Regions from separate parts of the Homo sapiens genome. Here region 2 is linked to region 1. The links come from fine-mapping of genetic effects on gene expression. A gene starts in region 1. The other region holds a variant in brackets. All regions are shown on one strand. Distances are from middle to middle.

The links. PIP is the estimated chance that this variant, and not a neighbour inherited with it, causes the effect.
Region 2: its variant is fine-mapped to the expression of CAPN1-AS1 in platelets (CEDAR, PIP 0.95).

Annotation. Positions count from the first base shown.
Region 1 is chr11:65,176,064-65,185,762 of GRCh38, forward strand. It overlaps CAPN1-AS1 (CAPN1 antisense RNA 1), which reads right to left and starts at 5,771. Exons shown (of 2, transcript NR_145677.1): 1 at 5,162-5,771; 2 at 3,808-5,009. It overlaps CAPN1 (calpain 1), which reads left to right and starts at 5,865. Exons shown (of 22, transcript NM_005186.4): 1 at 5,865-5,950; 2 at 6,638-6,905; 3 at 7,065-7,134; 4 at 7,411-7,529. The coding sequence starts at 6,639. RefSeq lists silencers at 5,184-5,633, 6,235-6,529 and enhancers at 5,552-6,341, 6,342-7,130, 7,131-7,920, 9,104-9,670.
Region 2 is chr11:65,140,945-65,150,643 of GRCh38, forward strand. It overlaps the pseudogene HIGD1AP10 and the pseudogene RNU2-23P. Among named protein-coding and RNA genes, the nearest start is that of SYVN1, 11 kb to the left of the region's middle. The variant C/CA (reference allele first, on the strand shown) is at 5,331.

The DNA of each region.
Region 1 (9,699 bases):
TGGCCTCCCAAAGTGCTGGGATTTACTTTTATTTTATTCTTAGAGACAGCATCTTGCTCTATTGCCCAGGCTGGAGGGAAGTGGCACAATCATAGCTCACTGCAGCCTCCAACTGCTGGGCTCAAGCCACCCTCCCATCTCAGCCTCTGGAGTAGCTGGGATGACAGGCATGCACCACCACACCTGGCTAATTTTCTAATTTTTTTATAGATGGGGTCTCATTATGTTGCCCAGGCTAGTCTCAAACTCCTAGCCTCAATCAATCCTCCTGTCTAGGCCTCCCAAAGTGTTAGGATTATAGGAATGAGCGACCACACCCAGAACATGATTTTTTATATATGTATATGGAGAAAAATACTCCTTTAAGATGTTAATTGTAAATGTTTTCTTCAGTCCATCATTTTGACATAACTGTATGGATTTTTAATGTAGTAAAAAATGCAATTTTATGACTTTTGGGTTTTGTGTCATAGTTAAAAAGACTGTTTCCACACTGAGATGATACAAAAAGTTTCTCCTTTAGCTCCTGGCTGTATTTTTTTTTTTTTTTTTTTGAGATGGAGTTTTGCTCTTGTTGCCCAGGCTGGAGTGCAATGGTGCGATCTCCACTCACCGCAACCTCCGCCTCCATCTCCCGGGTTCAAGCAATTCTTGTGCCTCAGTCTCCCAAGTAGCTGGGATTGCTGGTGTGTGCCACCATGCCCAGCTGATTTTTGTATATTTAGTAGAGATAGGGTTTCACGATGTTGGCCAGGCTGGTCTTGAACACCTGACCTCAAGTGATCCACCCACCTCAGCCTCCCAAAGTGCTAGGATTACAGGCATGAGCCACCGTGCCCAGCCAGCTTCTGGCTGTATTTTCGTTTTCATTTTTGTACGTTTAAATATTGAAGGTTAACATTTAATTTTTATTTTTATTTATTTATTTTTTTTGAGACGTTGTCTCACTCTGTCGCCGAGGCTGGAGTGCAGTGGCGCAATCTTGGCTCACTGCAAGCTCTGCCTCCTGGGTTCACGCCATTCTCCTGCCTCAGCCTCCCAAGTGGCTGGGACTACAGGCGCCCGCCACCACGCCCGGCTAATTCGTTTTGTATTTTTAGTAGAGATGGGGTTTCACCGTGTTAGCCAGGATGGTCTTGATCTCCTGACCTCGTGATCCACCTGCCTCAGCCTCCCAAAGTGCTGGGATTACAGGCATGAACCACCGCGCCTGGCCTATTTTTTATTGATTTTTTAGAGATGGAGTCTTGCTTTGTTGCCCAGGCTAGAGTGCAGCGGTGCTCACTGAGGCCTTGAACCCCTAGGCTCAAGAGAGCCTCCCACCTCAGGCTCCGAAAATGCTGGGATTACAGGTGGTGTGAGATACCACACCAGACCTAGAGTTTTTATTTTTTAATTTTTAAAAAAATTTTTATTTATTTTTTTGAGACGGAGTCTCACTCTTTTGCTCAGGCTGGAGTGAAGTGGTGCAATCTCGGCTCACTGCAACCTCCGCCCCCTGGGTTCAAACAATTCTCCTGCCTCAGCCTCCCGAGTAGCTGGGATTACAAACGCCTGCCACCCACCATGCCCAGCTTTTTTTTTTTTTTTTTTTGTATTTTTAGTAGAGACGAGGTTTCACCATATTGGCCGGGCTGGTCGTGAACTCCTGACCTCAGGTGATCCATCTACCTTGGCCTCCCAAAGTGCTAGGATTACAGGTGTTAGCCACCACACCCAGCCTTTTTAAATGTTTTTTTCATTAGGAACAACATATTCCAAACCTATAAATTGAGTTCATCTGTAATTTTTTCTAAGATACAAATTATGAATCCAACTTACTTTTTTTCCAGATTGCTCCCTTTTCTTCCTAATGTCTTTTATTAACTCATCTTTTCTCAACAGATTAGAAATGGTACTTTTATCATCTACTACATTCCTGCCTGTATTTGAATCTGTTTCTAAATTTCTCTGTCTTCTATTGATCTCTATGTGTCAGTAACCCTCTTTAATTATTACCTTTTAATGATAGATTTGTTGTGTTTTAATATCTGGTAGGATTAGTCTATACTCATTATGTCTTTTATTTTCAGAAGTTTCCTACTTGTTTAATTTGCCATATGACCTTTAAATCAGCTTTTCTAGTCCCTCCTTATCTCCCACCAGAAGACTCTTAAAATTTTTCATTGTGATACACTTAGAGATTAATTTAAGGAGAATTGACATCTATATGAAGCATCTTCATATGAAGACCAAGGTGTCAGCCCCCTTGCCTCTGCTTTTTGGTGGCTAGTGACTCCCAAATTTGTACCTCTATTTTGAGCACAAGGTCTGTTCCTCACCCCTAGGAATCTCCTCTTGGATAGGGGGATCCCAAAGATACCCCATACCCTGATCCCATACTGTCCCTCCAGCTTAGTGCATTCCCCCTTCTCTTTAATCTACTCAGGTGCTCAAGCCAGATCCAGGGTCTGAAGTTGTCTTTGGTCTCTCCTGGTGTCCAAGAGCCATATCTAACCAGTGACTAAGTTCTATTTTTTTTTTTTTTTTGAGACGGAGTTTTGCTCTTGTCGCCCAGGCTGGAGTGCAATGGTGTGATCTTGGCTCACTGCAACCTCCATCTCCTGGGTTCAAGTGATTCTCCTACCTCAGCCTCCCTAGTAGTGGGGACTACAGGAGCCCACCACCACGTCCAGCTAATTTTTGTATTTTTTAGTAGAGACAGGGTTTCGCCATATTGGCCAGGCTCGTCTCTCGAACTCCTGACCTTATGTGATCCGCCCACCTCAGCCTCCTAAAGTGCTGGGATTACAGGGGTGAGCCACTGCGCTCAGCCTGTGGTATATTTGTAATCACTGATGAACCAATATTGACACAATATTATTAATTCAAGTCCATAGTTTACATTAAGGTTCACTCTTAGTGTTGTACATTCTGCAGGTTTGGATAAATGCATGTCATGCATCCGTCATTACAGTATCATACAGAATAGTTTCGCTGTGCTAAAAATGCCCTGTGCTCCATCCCTCTCCTACCCCTCTGAATCCCTGGCAACTGCTGATCTTTTTACCATTGCTAGTTTTGCCTTTTCTAGAACGTCATATAGAGTTATTGGAATCATACAGTATGCAGCTTTTTAATACCAGCCTCTTTTACTTAGCAATATGCGTTTAAGGTTATGCTATGTCTTTTTGTAGCTTGATGGCTGATTTCTTTGTATCGCTAAATTTTAAAGAAATTGCCAAACTGTCTTCCAAAGTGGTGGTGATCATTTTACCCTCTCTTGGTGTATGACAGCTCCAGTTCTTCTATATCCTTGACAACATAACAACACTTGGTATGGTTGATCTTAACTTTTAGCCATTCTAGTAGGTGTTCTTTTAGAAGCAGTCCTTCTAGTGGCTTTAATTTGCATTTCCCTAAGAGTAATGCACTCAGTGTTTTTTAATGTGCCTATTTGCCATCCAGAGATCTTTTTGGATGAAGTGTCTGTTCAAATGTTTTGTCCATTTTTTGACAGGCGCGGTGGCTCACCCTGTAATCCCAGCACCTTGGGAGGCAGAGGCGTGCAGATCACTTGAGGTCAGGAGTTTGAGACCAGCTTGGCTAACATGGTGAAACCCTGTCTCTACTAAAAATACAAAAATTAGCCTGGTGTGGTGGCGGGCGCCTGTAATCCCAGCTACTGGGGAGGCTGAGGCAGGAGAATTGCTTGAACCCAGGAGGTGGAGGTTGCAGTGAGCCAGGATCGCGCCACTGCATTCCAACCTGGGTGATGGAGCGGGACTCCATCTCAAAAACAAAAACAAACACCAGAAAACAAACAAATGTTTTGTCCATTTTTATTGGATTTTTATTCAATTGTAAAAGTTCTTTATACAAGTCCTACATCAGATAGAATTTTTACAAATATTCGTCCTAGTCTATGGCTTATCTTTTCATTTTTAATAGTTTCGTGCATTTTGAGAAACAAAAGCGTTTTATTTTGATGAAGTTCAATTTATTGATTTCTTCTATCATTTACACTTTTTGTGTCATATTTAAGAAATCTGGCCAGGTGCCAAAGCTCACACCTGTAATCCCAGCACTTTGGGAGGCTCAGGCAGGAGGACTGCTTGAGCCCAGGAGTTCATGACCAGCCTGAGTAACACAGCAGGACCCCATTTCTACAAAAAATTTAAAAATTAGCTGTGTGTCGTGGCACGTGCCTGTAGTCTCAGCTACTCAGGAGGCTGAGGTGAGAGGATCTCTTGAGCCCAGGAGTTTAAAGTTACAGTGAGCTGTGATCAGGGCACTGCACTCCTGCCTGGTCAATGAAAGCAAGACCCTGCCTTTAGAAAAGAAAAAAGAAATCTTTTCAAACCCAATATTGTTAAGATTGTCTCCATTTTTAAAAAAAAAAGTTTTATGGTTTGGCCATTTATATTTAGGTGTGTAATCCAGTTTGAGTTAAATTTTGATGGTGTATCCTAAATAGTTATCAAATCCATCTACTTCTGCCTGCCACCTCTCTAGTTTAAACCACCCTTCTCTGTCCCTGGACACCTGCGCAGAAAGCCTAGGAGCTGGTTCCACCCATCACTCACCAGGTTAGGTATTTCAGGCAAGTCACACCCTCTCAGGCCTCAGTTTTCCTCTTTTGTTAACTGAGGGTGAAAGTGGGGTTAGATTAGATCAGCGGCTCTTAACTTTTGAGGGGTCGTGGGCCCTAGAGTCCTGGGAACGCTATGCAGTTTCCTCAGCAAAATGCTTGCATCCACAACATGCAAGACTGCAGCAGCTGCTGGGCTGGGGCTGCGAGACCAGCGAAAAGCCCTGACTTGGGGGGGTCTCGGGAGTCTCTGCAGTCTCCCCACCCACACCCCCGGCCTCCGCGCCGAATCCTGGCCCCCCAACTTCTTGCAGCCCGTGAAGCAGGATCTCAGGGTCCTGGGGGTGGGGAGAGGGGGCTGCCGTCCTGCTCGCAGCCTCTGCCGCCCTCTCCTGGGTAAGGTGACACATGGGCGCTTCCAGGTGGGTGGGCTGAGAGCCTGGGGGAGAGAACAGGGATGTCCACCTCTCTAAGTTTCCAGGTTCAAGAAACCCCAGAACGTTAGAGAAAGATGGGCTCCCACAATTGCCCAACCCCATCCCATAGGATGCACGCATGCGGAAAGTCGGGCCGAACGGGGCAGGGACTTACCCAAGGTCACGCAGCGAGCCCGGTCCCCCTGCGTTCCCCGGGGAGCGCTGAGCCGGGACGCGGCGGTGGGGTGGGGAAGGGGAGTGGCGCGGCCCTGCGGGGTGAGGCTGCCGTTTGCTGAGTGTCCGGCAGGGGTCTGCTCGCTGCCAGCCCGGCCCCTCCTCAGAGCAGCTGCCGCAGCCCGAGGTAATCTCGGCCCCGCGCCGGGGCTGGCTGGGAACGGCGGGAGCAGCTGCGGTCGCGCGGAGCGAGGGGAGCTGGGGACCGGGCGGGCCCGGGGCTGCGGGAGGCGGCGCCGCCGCACAATCGCCCCGGAATGCCCGCCAGGGCGCGCGTGGGGTGCGGCCGTCCGGCCCTGCAACTCGAGCTGCTGCCCCTGGTTAAAAATACCCCCTGCCCGGCCCTCCCCCTCCGTTCCCCGCGGTGCCCTTCCGCCGCGCCCCAGCCCCCCCATCCCCCCCCGCGCTGGCCCCTCCCCGGGGACTGCTCTGCCTTTTACTAATTTGTCCTCTCGCGGAATTGGCCCCCGGCCTGCGGAGGGAGGGGCGGGGAGACACCGTGAGTAAGAGATAGTCAGAGACCGTGCCGGAGAGATAAGGGAGAGCCGAGAGGAAGCGGGGTAGGAGCCCCAGGAGGAGGAGGAGGAGAAGGAGAGAGGGAGGGCGGAGGGCGGAGGGGCGGCGGGAGGAGGGCGGGGAGGAGCGCTCTTCCTGGTTGGGCCCTGCCCTGAGCTGCCACCGGGAAGCCAGCCTCAGGGACTGCAGCGACCCCCAAACACCCCTCCCCCAGGTAAGAAGCTGGGTAGCCGAGCCGGGATTCCTTGACCCTGGCCACTGCTCCTGGGCTGAGGGGCTGCCCCAGCACGGTCCCTTCTCGGGGGCCTCTGCGTTCCTGGAGCAGGGGTGGGGGCTGGCGGAGCGGCACAGCCCAGGCGCCTGTCCCAGCCTGGCTCACCGCTGTCCCCAGGGGCTGGGCTAGGGCCCACCAGCTCTGATATCGAGCCTGCTGCGGGGGCCTGAGGAGGGGGACCCCGACCGTCTGGGGTTTTCAGCCCACGGCAAGGGGCCGGTGCACCAGGAGCTTGGTTAGTTTGGGGAGGGGGTTGCAGGCCTGTGAACAGGATCAAAGAGGCCTTCCCTGCTGTGTCCCACCTGCCCAGTTCCTTGTGCTGTCTGGAGGCTCCGCCCTGCCCCACCTGACCTGCTGGCTCACTACAGAGCTGCAAGCCCCTGACAATGGGATCCGGGAAAGGAGAGGTGGCCGGCACGCCTGGGAACTGGGAAATCCCTTTCCTGGATTCACTGGGAGCACCGGGAGGTGGCTGAGAACCCTACTTCTGTGAGGGGAGCAGTGAGGCAGGGAAACCCTAGGTTTGGGGATGGATAAGCAGGGGCAGGAGAGCAGAGCTTGCAGGCAGGAGCCCAGGTTCTAGTCTTGGGAAGGCCTGGGTTCTGAGCAGGCCCATCTGTCCGGCAGGATGTCGGAGGAGATCATCACGCCGGTGTACTGCACTGGGGTGTCAGCCCAAGTGCAGAAGCAGCGGGCCAGGGAGCTGGGCCTGGGCCGCCATGAGAATGCCATCAAGTACCTGGGCCAGGATTATGAGCAGCTGCGGGTGCGATGCCTGCAGAGTGGGACCCTCTTCCGTGATGAGGCCTTCCCCCCGGTACCCCAGAGCCTGGGTTACAAGGACCTGGGTCCCAATTCCTCCAAGACCTATGGCATCAAGTGGAAGCGTCCCACGGTGAGAGGGGCCATCCTGGGTGGGACTCGGCTAAGCCAGATCCTGGATGAGGAGTAGGGATGGGACTCCATGTCCCTGGTGGGGAATGGGGTCTGGGGTGGCCTGGTGCCAATTTCTGGGAGGGGCTGGCCGAGGAACAGGACTCTGGGTCTCTCGTAGGAACTGCTGTCAAACCCCCAGTTCATTGTGGATGGAGCTACCCGCACAGACATCTGCCAGGGAGCACTGGGTAGGCCCCCAGGGCGTCGGGTCCCGGGTATTTTTTCCACAGTAGTTCCCCATTCCCGCTCCTTCAGGCTCTGCCCCAACCCCTCCCTCTTGCAAGCCCAGGCAGGATCTGGCTATCAGCGCTGGGGCTGGTTTGCCCAGATTCCTGGGTCTTTTCTGCAAGCTGAGGGGAGTTAAGTGGCACCCTGGCCAAGGAACCCCAGATTCTCCCTAGCACCCGCTTCCCCCCCCGGGGCAGGTTGGTAGAGCAGGCTAATGTGCATCCCTCCTGCCCCAGGGGACTGCTGGCTCTTGGCGGCCATCGCCTCCCTCACTCTCAACGACACCCTCCTGCACCGAGTGGTTCCGCACGGCCAGAGCTTCCAGAATGGCTATGCCGGCATCTTCCATTTCCAGGTGAGGGCTCCCCTGGGGAGGAGGGGCAGCAGGCACTGGGGGAGATGCGGAAGGATGACCCACAATACCTGCAGTTAGGGCCACACCCTGTGGGGCCAGCCCTCCCTCTAGCAGGTATTTGACCTCTCAGTGCCATCTCGGGTCTGTCATGTGTGAAGTGACTGGGCTGGGCAGGTATTTCGGCTGGCAGTTTTCCTAGGTGGTTGTATGTATCAGGTGGAAAGTGCTTGAAAGAACAGAAAGACTTTTGTGTTATATCCTGTGGGACAAATTCCACTCCTCCCGGAGGTCGGTCTCAGTTGCCCCATCTGAGAAAGGAGTGTTCGCTGGGGAAAACAGATCAGCACGTGTGGCCTTCTCCACGTGTCAAGCCTCCTATCCCCCAACTCCTCCTGCGCTTTGGCAAGGTCTGACTGAGCCCAGCAGAAAAGAAAGACTCGGGATTAAGTCTACGTAAACCAGCTTTTCCTGACGGTGTGCCCAGGGCCCATTTTTCAAGTCACACCAATCAATTCTCAATGAGCTGCCTTTGGGAGGGACATGCCCAGCAACCCTGGATGAGACTCTCCAGCCTTGGAGGCCCCAGCCCTGCCCGAAGGACTCTTGGGTGTTCCCTCCTTCTGCCTGGTTAGAGAGCCCCTTACCCTACTCTGTCCTTGCCCGCCTTGCGCGGGTGGAGGTGGCCCTCGGAACCCAGGGTGCGGAACCCACAGTGCGGATCCACTTTGGCCCAGCGCCACACCCACCTGCTCCAGTCTGCAGGGGCGCAGTCTCGCCCCCTTCCCTCGCTCCTCCAATCCGCTCCTCCCTGGCCTCCGATTGGCCAGTTCAGTACCCGCCACCCACACTCTCCGCAACCTGGGCTCCTAGGGCCGCCTCCACCCCGCCCCGCCCCCCGTTGTCCTGGCCCCGACCCCTCAGATGGTACCTCGAGTCCTTGGTCGCTTCTGACCCCAGACGCCTTCGGCCCCGACCCTGCCCTGGGAAACGTGGCCTTTGTGGCATCTCAGAAACAAAGCCCGTGATTGTGAGAACCAGTCCTGCCCATCTTGTGGTTGTAGGATCTGGATGCCACATTTTCACTGCTCATCCAATGACACAGGTGCCCCTAACCCCCTTGAATAGGGAGGGAAGAGCCAGGGGGCCATGGCCTAAAAGGGGGCTAGTTCCGGAAAGCCCAGGCCCCAGAGCTTTTCCACCTCTCCGTGCCTGAGGAGGAACCCTGTTTGTTCAGTGACTCCCTAAAGGCTTTGCCTGTGCTCTTGTTTAAGTCTTCCGTGAAGAAGGCACCGCTGCTCCTTTTTATGGATAGGGAAACTGAGGCTCAGAGGCGATAACTTTTCCAGGATCATGTAGCTAGTATGTCTCGAGCATACATGTACATATCAAGTATACACATGTCTATATGTGGTATGCATGTATTAGTATACAGCAAATATGCAGGTATCTAGTATACATTGTACAGGCAAAGGAAAGCATCCCCTTAGCCCTCTGAAGGTTCACTGAAAAATCAACTCACAAAAGGAGGTTAGTAGGAGAAATGGCATACAAATTGATTAGCCTGCAGCGTGGGGTCGGGAACCACAGAGTGTTCACCCCAGCCCCACAATGGGTACAGAAGCCTATATACCATCCTGAGGTTACAGGAAGAATGGGGGCTCGAACATGGCCAAAACCAGTTTCTGGTGGTAAATCAGGTTATAGTGGCAAGACAGACTATGGAAGGGGGAGAAAAGGGGGCCTGGGTAGCAAAGGCAGTCTTGTTATGTAGATGAAACCTCACAGGTAGCAGCCCTCAGAGGGAATAGATGGTAATTGTTTCGTTCAGACCTTTAAAGGGTGTCAGGCTCTCAGTCTGACAAGGGAAGGCCTTAGAGAAAGCCTGGCTACATCAATGCAGATTTTCTCTACAGATGCAAATCTCCCCCACAAAAGACAGTATTACAGGGCTACTTCTGTTTGCAGACCCTCTGAACAGCTATCTCAAAATATGTTGAAGAAGTATATTTCAGGGTGAAATACTTTGATTTCCTTCAATACCTAGATACATGTATCTAGTATATCTGTAGCATACATGTATCTAGAGGTACACATGCATCTAGTATGTATCTAGTATATGTGATTTAGTATACATGCATCTACTATGTATCTGGTATACCTGACCTAGTAT
Region 2 (9,699 bases), 35 kb before region 1:
TCTTATTGTATGTTAAAACTGGCAAATCTTATTGTATTAACATACAATTATATCTCAGTTAAGTTGACATAAAAGTTGTTGAAAGCAAACTTACATTTTGACCTGGATTTTCCCCTTTCAGGAATCTATCTTGTTGAAGAGCTTGTACATGACCCCAAAGATTTTAAGTCCAAGGATGATTGCCACAGCATTGTTTGAAATAGTGAAACAAGACAATAGAACCACATATCCATTAGGGAGAGAATGGTTAGGTCTGTCTTTTAAATTTTTATTTGTTCGTTTGTTTACTGTATTTTTTGTAGAGTCAGAGTCTTGCCATGTTGCGCAGGCTGGTCTCCAACTCCTGAGCTCAAGCAATCCTCTCAGCCTTGGCAACATAGTGAGACCCCCCTCCTACAAAAAATAAATTATCCAGGTGTGGTGGCTGTAGTCTCAGCTACTCAAGAGGCTGTGGTGGGAGGATTGCTCAAGCCCAGGAGTTCAAGGCTGCAGTGAGCTATGATCCTAAGATCATGCCACTGCACTCCAGCCAGAGTGACAGAGAGAGACCCTATCTCTAAAAGAAAGAAAAAGAAAAGAAAATGGTTAATAAGCACAAAAAAATATGTTAAACATCACTGGTCATTATGGAGATGTAAATCAAAACCATAGAGAGATGATTTCATACCCACTAAAATCATTGTGATAAAAAAAAGACCAACAATAACAAGTGTTGGCAAGATGTGGAGAAATTGGCACCCTTATGTGTTTCTGGTGGGAATGTAAAATAGTGTAAATGCTTTGGAAAACAGTTTGGCAGTTCTTCAGTAAATTAAACATAAAATTACCATATGACCCAGAAATTCTACTTCTAGGTATATGTTCAAGAGAACTGAAAGCATCTGGTCATACAAACACTTGTACAAGAACATTCGTAGCAGCATTATTCATAATAGCCAAAAAGTACAAACAACCCAAATGTCCATGAATGGCTAAACAAAATGTAATGTACCCACACAATGGAGTATTATTTAGCCATAAACAGGAAGGAAGTACTGCTTCATGCTACAACATTGATGAACCTTGAAAACCCTGTGCTCAGTGAAAAAAGCATTCATATCACTGCACTTACGTTACATGTCCAGAATAGACAAGTCCATACAGACAGAAGTAGTTAGTGGTTGCCAAGGGCTGGTGGCGTGAGGAATGGGGCCTGACTGCTAATTGGTATGGGGTTTATTATTTGAGGAGTGATAAAAATGTTCCTGAGGAGATAGTGGCTATGCTTGCACAATTTTGTGAGTATACTAAAAATGACCGAATTGTACACTTTATTTATTTTGAGACACAGTCTCGCTCTGTTGCGAAAGCTGTAGTGCAGTGGCGCGATCATGGCTCACTGCAGCCTGGAACTCCTGGGGTCAAGTGATCCTGCCACCTCAGCCTCCCAAGTGGCTGACATTACAGGCAAATGCCATCATGCCTGGCTAACTTTTTTATTTTTAGTAGAGACAGAGTCTCACTCTGTTGCCCAGGCTGGTTTTGAACTCCTGACCTCAAGTGATCCTTCCGCCTCAACCTCCCAAAATGCTGGGATTCAAATGTGAGCCACCACACCTGGCTGAATTGTACACTTTAAAATAATGAATTGTGGTATGTTAATTACATCAATAAAATAGGTAAGGAAGTAACAAAGACAAAATAGAAATTAAGAAAATAGAGGACAGGCGCAATGGCTCACGCCTGTAATCCCAGCACTTTAGGAGCCTGAGGCAGGCGAATCATGAGATCAGGAGTTTGAGAAGAGCCTGGCCAACATGGTGAAACCCTGTCTCTACTAAAAATACAAAAAATTAGCTGGGCGTGGTGGGGGGGCACCTGTAATCCCATCTACTTGGAAGGCTGAGGCAGGAGAATCACTTGAATCTGGGAGGCAGAGGTTGCAGTGACCTGAGATCGCGCCATTGTACTCCAGCCTGGGCAACAATGCGAGACTCTGTCTAAAAAAAAAAAAAAGAAAAGAAAAAAGAAAATAGATAAAGCTAAAATAGAATACACAAAGTTGAAAGCTGGCTCTTTGAATAAACTAATAAGAATGACAAATCTCCAGAGAGACTGGTCAAGAAAATAAGGTTTGCACAAGCAGACAATATAATGAATGAAAACAGCAATAAACAGACACAGCAGAAATTTAAAAATAATGAGCATGCAGTAGGTGCAATTTTATGGCAATAAATTTGAAAATTTAGGAGAAATAGACAATTTCCTAGAAAATAAAAGATGCACTAAAACTGACCTAAGACACAACAGAAAACATGAATTGATAAGTATTTTAAAATTTTATTTTATTTTTGAGATGGAGTCTTGCTCTGCCGCCCAGGCTGGAGTACAGTGGCGTGACCTCGGCTCACTGTAACCTCCACCTCCTGGGTTCAAGCGATTCTCCTGCCTCAGCCTCCCAAGTAGCTGGGACTACAGGCGCCTGCCACCACACACAGCTAATTTTTTGTATTTTTAGTAGAGACAGGGTTTCACCATGTTGGCCAGGATGGTCACCATGTTGGCCAGGATGGTCTCCATCTCTTGACCTCGTGATCCACCCGCCTCGGCCTCCCAAAGTGCTGGGATTACAGGTGTGAGCCACCATGCCCAGGCTTTTTTTTTTTTTTTTTTTTGAGACAGTGTCTTGCTCTATCACCCAAGCTGCTGGAATGCAGTGGCATGATCAGGGCTCGCTGCAGCCTCAAACTCCTGGGTTCAAGTGATCTTCCCACCTCAGCCCTGCAGAGTAGCTGGGACTACAGGCATGCGCCACTGTGCCTGGCTAATTTTTGTATTTTTTGTAGATATGGGGTTTTGCCATGTTACCCTGGCTGGTCTCAAACTCCTTGGCTCACGCGATCCACCTGCCTTGGCCTTGCAAAGTGTTGAGATTACAGTCATGAGCTGCTGCGTTCGGCTTAAAAGTTTTTCAACATTTTTGACAACAACATCTGGATTCTCACATTCTCCCTCCATGAAAGAGAAAATGAGGAACTATTCTCTCTCTTCCATGGTGGAACACTCCAGGTACTCCCAGCCTGGAAGGCCAGACCCTCCAACTTTCCCTGAATGACCCCCTCACCAAGAAGTGTGCATTGAATGTGGGACTGACCACACATGAGGTCAGTTTGTTGGTCTATCTAGACTGCCTTTGGACTTCCCTTGCCTCTGATCTCATTCCTTTAATTAACAAACATTTACTGAGGGCCTACTGTGTTCAGGCCCCAGGCCAGGTTCTGAGGACATTGTGGAGAACAAAATACATTCCCTGACCTCATGGAGCTTTCAGTCTCATGGTAGAGAGATCCACAAGCTAATTGCAGGTTATTTGACTGTCTGCTGAATGAATGCATTAGTGGAAGAATGAATGAGTAAAAGCTACATTGTCCAAATTCCTGTCCTGTCAGAATTGATGTTGACGTTCTTTTTTTTTTTTTTTTTTGAGATGGTCACTTACTTTAACAACAGTACATATACCATGTTATCACCATGAAATGTAAATTCAGGTTAGACAAGAAAATTTCACAAATGTAATAACATTCTATAGTTTATAAAAGTTTGGGTATACTGTCTGGCCAAACCAGCTTGCTCATAAGTCATTAATCAATTCCATTATAGGTAATTTGATTAGTTTAATGTTTGTAATTCTTATGGAAAAAATAAGCAATGCACACATTTAAAAAGTGCTCATTGGGCTGGGCACGGTAGCTCATGCCCGTAATCCCAGCACTTTGAGTGGCTGAGGCCCAGCGGATCACGAGGTCAAGATCGAGACCATCCTGGACAACATGGCGAAACCCTGTCTTTATTAAAAATATAAAAATTAGCCAAGGATGGTGGTGTGCACCTGTAGTCCCAGCTACTCAGGAGGCTGAGACAGGAGAAGTGCTTGAACCCGGGAGATGGAGGTTGCAGTGAGCTGAGATCACACCACTGCACTCCAGCCTGGTGACAGAGCGTGACTCCGTCTCAAAAAAAATAAAATAAAAGGTGCTCATTTACCTTTGCATGAGTGCTTAAATACATATTTCTATCTCAAGATGACATTTAAAAATTATTCAGATATAACAGCAGCAAAAATATAATTCTGCAATTACAAAATAACTAAACTAGAATCCATAAGTTATTCTCATGTTCACAACTGTGATTCTTTAATAAATACCACTACTATGCAGCTATAATGTAAGCTTTCTAGATTTGGTTTAAACACACACACATAGATACTGTCAGTTGTGGGAAGCTTTACAAGTTTTATTCCATGCACTTTTTAGACAGAGTTCTGAAAGAGCCAGCCAGTCCACAAGACAGGCAGAAAAAAAGTTAAATTAACTAGGGCAAATAGGACTCTTATATAACATCCGAAACATGTGAGATCCTGCAGCAAACTGGGAGTACTTCAGGGTTGGCTTGTTATATCCTTTAGAACTTAAGTTCATCTTCACAATTGAAGAAGGTGGACATTTCAACACCATCTAGTGCATTTAGGTGACATGTTTCTTTTATGCTAACTTGATTTCCTTGAATGACCTAGTTAGTAAACTAGTCACTAGTAATTAAGTCACCAGGCAAATCAAGCCTGCAAGAAAGGAAGCCAATATTCAAAATGCTGTGTTACCATCTAAACCCACTCAAATAGTTTATTTTCCACAATAACACATAACTTCAATAATGAGATGTCTAACTAAAGCAAGCTCCTCCAACAAGACCAAGACAGCATCTCTTCTTCTAGGGCTTAGGTTTTGCCCAGAATTCTCGATACATGGAATAGCCCATACCAATAGTCATTGCTCCTACAACAAAGCCTTGGGCTGCCACACGCATGTGGATCAGATGAAGGGACATTTGCGTATTTCCCCTGCTCTTCAATTTGTATAATCCATATGTAACAAGTGCTGCAAAACCTGCTATTCCAACGGGTACCAATGGTGTCTCTTTAGCTTTACGAATAAGTTTGGATCCCTGAGCTTCGTCATATGAAGAAAGGGAAACATCTGTGTCTGTTGATATAATGACTGCTTGAAGAATCTCCCGGCTGGGCGCGGTGGCTCATTCCTGTAATCCCAGCACTTTGGGAGGCTGAAGCGGGCGGATCACGAGGTCAGGAGATCGAGACCACCCTGGCCAACATGGTGAAACCCCGTCTCCACTAAAAATACAAAAATTAGCTGGGCATGGTGGTGCCGGCCTGTAGTCCCAGCTACTTGGCAGGCTGAAGCAGGAGAATAGCTTGAACCCAGGATGTGGAGGTTGCAGTGAGCCGAGATTGCACCATTGCACTCCAGCCTGGGCGACAGAGCGAGACTCCATCT[C/CA]AAAAAAAAAAAAAGGAAGAAGAAGAAAACCTCTCACACCTGATGTCAACATTCTTTTAGTTAACATTTAACATGTTTTTCTTGAGTGCCAAGTATGTGACAGATTTAGAGCAAGGGTTTTTACAGGGCATACAATGTAACACCCTGTCTTTCCCTGACCAAGTTTAGTACCATCTGAAAAACAGACACATAGGATAGAGATAAAAATGTTACTTCTGTAACCAATAGAGTTGTTGAGAAAATGCATTTGAAGTCCCTGTACCCGTCCCAGAGCTGCACAGACTTACCCACTCTGCTCCCAAAGGTTTCTCCTTCTTTTGATGTAGGGTAGGCAAGCCCCCAAATTGGGGCTTAGCCCGGGAGGGTTCTTGGCTTTGTCCAGGAAATAATTCCAGGGTGAGCCAGTGCTGTTAGACAGACACTTTTAGTGAAGTGGCAGTGCACAGCAGCAGCAGATGTACTGTTCCTTGCACACCAGGGCTACCCCGAGTAGCAGCTCAGAGGTAGTTCTGCAGTCATATTTATACCCACTTTTAATTATATGCAAATTAAGGAGAAGATTATGCAGAAATTTCTAAAAATAAGGTGGTAACTTCTGAGTCGTTTGGTCATTAACACAGAAAGAGGCAGTAACTTCCAGGTGTTACCATGGCAATGGTAAACTGACATGGCACACTGGTGGGTGTGTCTTATGGAAAGCTGCCTCCACCCCATCCCTGTTTTAGCAAGTCCTCAATTTGGTCTGGTGTCCCAGCCCCACCTCCAGAATTGAGACCTGCCTCCTACCTCACTTTGGGTCCCATACATAGTTGCTTCTAACAACTTCACCAAGAAAACTCTCTTTTCTACTTCTTGGGAGGGGTGAGTGAGAGAAAGTGGGACAAGGCCACTTTTCTGCAGTGTTAGTTACTCCAGAAAAGGTCCACCATGTGGAAACAGATATAATGAGAAATAATCCTTAGTTTGTGTTAATCAAACCCAGTCAGTTATCCAACCAGTCAATTCCTCAATCCAAGCAGCATGAAACTGCACTCCTAGTTAGGTTTGTGGATTATAAATGCTCATAAATTCCTTATCCCGTCCCTCATGGAAAGGTGGGGTTTACTTCTCCACCCCCTTAATTCTGGACTTGGCCTATGACTTGCTTTGAACCAGTAGAATATGGTGGAAATGAAGCTGTGCCCAATTCTGGGCTTACCCTTTAAAACAGAACTGGCAGCTTCTGTTTTCTTCTCTTGGAATTCAGCCACCATGCTGTGAGGAAGCCCAAGCAGTCCTGTGGGGAGGCCCATGTAGAGGAGAATCAAAGCTCCATTCTCAGCCTTTTGGGTAAGATCAAGTGTAGTATCTGTTCTTATCAGTTTAATATCTGATATGTCCTCTATTCGAGGACACAATCTATATTAAATAGATTTTTGGAACTAAGAGATGGAATAGGAGCTTGCCCCACCCACTCCACACATTTACCTAGCATTGCAGTACCTCCAGGAACAGTGTACCCCTAAAGGGAGATAAAGTTTAAAAATGAAAAAAATAGGGAATAAAAAGCTCTAGCCCTACCATCCAATTGGCTGGGGGAATTTAAATAAATAAATAAATAAATAAATAAATAAATAAATAAATAGCTCTAGCCAGCATCAACTTGCCAGCCATTGGAGTGCACCATCTTTGAAGGGTCCTCCAGCTCCAAGGATGGAGCTGGAGGCACAAGAAGAGCTGTCTCAACCAGGCCTTGCCCAAATTGCATAATGGTAAGAAAATAAATGATTGGTATTGTCATAAGCCTCTAGGTTTGAGAGTGGCTTGTTTCACAGCCCTAATCTAATTTGACTCCCTGTTCTTGGCCCCAGACCCAGGGCCTGCCACAGAATAAGAACTCAGGGAGTGTTGAAGAAGTGAGTCAACAAATGATTGGGCTGAGCGTGGTGGCTCACGCCTGTAATCCCAGCACTTTGGGAGGCCGAGGCAGGTGGATCATCTGAGTGAGGTCAGGAGTTCAAGACCAGCCTGGCCAACAGGATGAAACCCCATATCTACTAGAAATATAAAAATTAGCCAGGTATGGTGATGCGTGCCTGTAATCCCAGCTACTCAGGAGGCTGAGGCAGAAGAATCACTTGAACCCAGGAAGTCGAGGTTGCAGTGAGCCAAGATAGCGCCACTGCACTCCAGCCTGGCTGACAGAGTTAGACTCTGTCTCAAAAAAAAAAAAAAAAAAAAAAAAAAAAAAAAAAAAAAAAAAAAAAAAAGACTGGATTGGCTAAGTGGATGATGGATGATTGAATGGTTGGATAAGTGAATTGTGTTAAGCCTGACAGGTCTAGAGTGATGAGCTGTGGCAGAATCAGGGGCTCAGAGTCCAGTAGCTTCAAGGAGGATGAGAAGCCATCTCTGCTGGAATTGTTATAAATAATTTCCTGGGAAGGGTCCCTGGCAGATCTACTTGGAGTGGCATTGTCACAGGCAGTGCATACTCAGCTGCTCAGGTGAGACACTAACTGCAAGCCCAGAATCTGGAAAGCTCCACAGTGCAGTGGGCCCAGCCTTACTATCCCTGCTGGAACCACACCAGCAGAAGGAGTGCCCGAGGGCTGCTACCTGTCTCCCTCGACTCCACTTAGTTCCAAATGTAAGTCTCACATGATTGAAACTGTGGAAGGAGGCTGGGTGCGGTTGCTCTCACCTATAATCCCTGCACTTTGGGAGGCCAAGGGGGCGGATCACCTGAAGTCGGGAGTTCAAGACCAGCCTGACCAACATGAAGAAACCCCATCTTTACTAAAAATAAAAAACTAGCCAGGCATGGTGGCACATGCCTGTAATCCCAGCTACTTGGGGGGCTGAGGCAGGAGAATCACTTGAACCCAGGAGACAGAGATTGCAGTGAGCCGAGATCACACCACTGCACCCCAGCCTGGGGAGCAAGAGTGAAACTCAGTCTTTTAAAAAAAAAAAAAAAACCAGAAGGAATATATGTAACTCAAGTTTTGTGTGGTTTTTTTTTTTTTTTTTTTTTTTTTTTTTTTTTTTTTTTTACCGTTCCAGCCTCTGTGGTCCAGGCAGCCAGCTGGGAGAAGGCTGAGACAGATGCTCAGTGACAAGTGTGAGCTTGCTAATCTGACAAAGGCCTTTCTAAGGGGGCATTTGGATTTCTGCATGATATGCTTCCAGCCTGCCTCCTAACCCCACCAAATCCTCATCATGCACTTTGTTATTTATTTATTTTTGAGACGGAGTCTCACTCTTGTCGACCACGCTAGAGTGCAGTGGTGTGATCTCGACTTACAACAACTTCCGCCTCCTGGGTTTAAGCAATTCTCCTGCCTCAGCCTCCTGAGTAGCTGGGATTACAGGCACCTGCCACCATGCCCAGTTAATTTTTGTATTTTTAGTAGAGATGGGATTTCATATGTTGGCCAGGCTGGTCTCGAACTCCTGACCTCAGGTGATCCACCCACCTCAGCCTCCCAAAGTCTGGGACTACAGGCATGAGCCACCTTACCCGGCCCTCATCATGCACTTTGTATTGTGGTCAAACTTAACTTGTCTCATTCCCCAAACTCTGCTTGCCTCTTCAGCCTAGCTATCTTCACTTTTGCTCAAACCTATATAAAGTAGCATGCTTTTCCCTTTCTTCTTTGTCTGGAAAATTCTTAGTGCACACCCTTACACATTTCCAGCATCAGCCATGAACCTGAGTGAGTCTCTCCCCACCACATGGTGCCTACAGCATTTGTCCCTGTGTGAACACAGCCCCTATGACCCTGCATTGTAATCACTTCTGTGTCTGTGACATCCTTCAGGGCAGGGCTGAGAATAATAAATGTTGGGCAGTTACAGTTTTAACCTTTATGTCAATCCTGAGTCAGGTACTATTATCATATCGGTTTCATAGATGAAGAAACTGAGGCTCAGAGAGATTAAGTAACTTGCCTGAGGTTTGCCCAACTAATAGGGAAAGACAAAGTCAAGATTTAAGCCCAGGTCGGGTGCGGTGCCTCACGCCTGTAATCCCGGCACTTTGAGAGGGCAAGGGTGGGGGGATCACCTGAGGTCGGGAGTTCGAGACCAGCCTGGGCAACATGGTGAAATCCCATCTCTACTAAAAATACAAAAATTAGCCAGGCATTGGGGGTGGGTGCCTGTAGTCCCAGCTACTCGGAAGGCTGAGGCATGAGAATTGCTTGAATCCAGGAGACGGAGGTTGCAGTGAGCCAAGACTGCGCTACTGCACTCCAGCCTGGGTGACGGAGCGAGATTCCTTCTCAAAAAAAAAAAAAAAAAAGACTTAAGCCCAGACAGGGTGGCCCCATGGCCCTTCTCTCAACCCCCGCGCTTTGTAACAGGTCCATTTTCTCATCCCCATGGC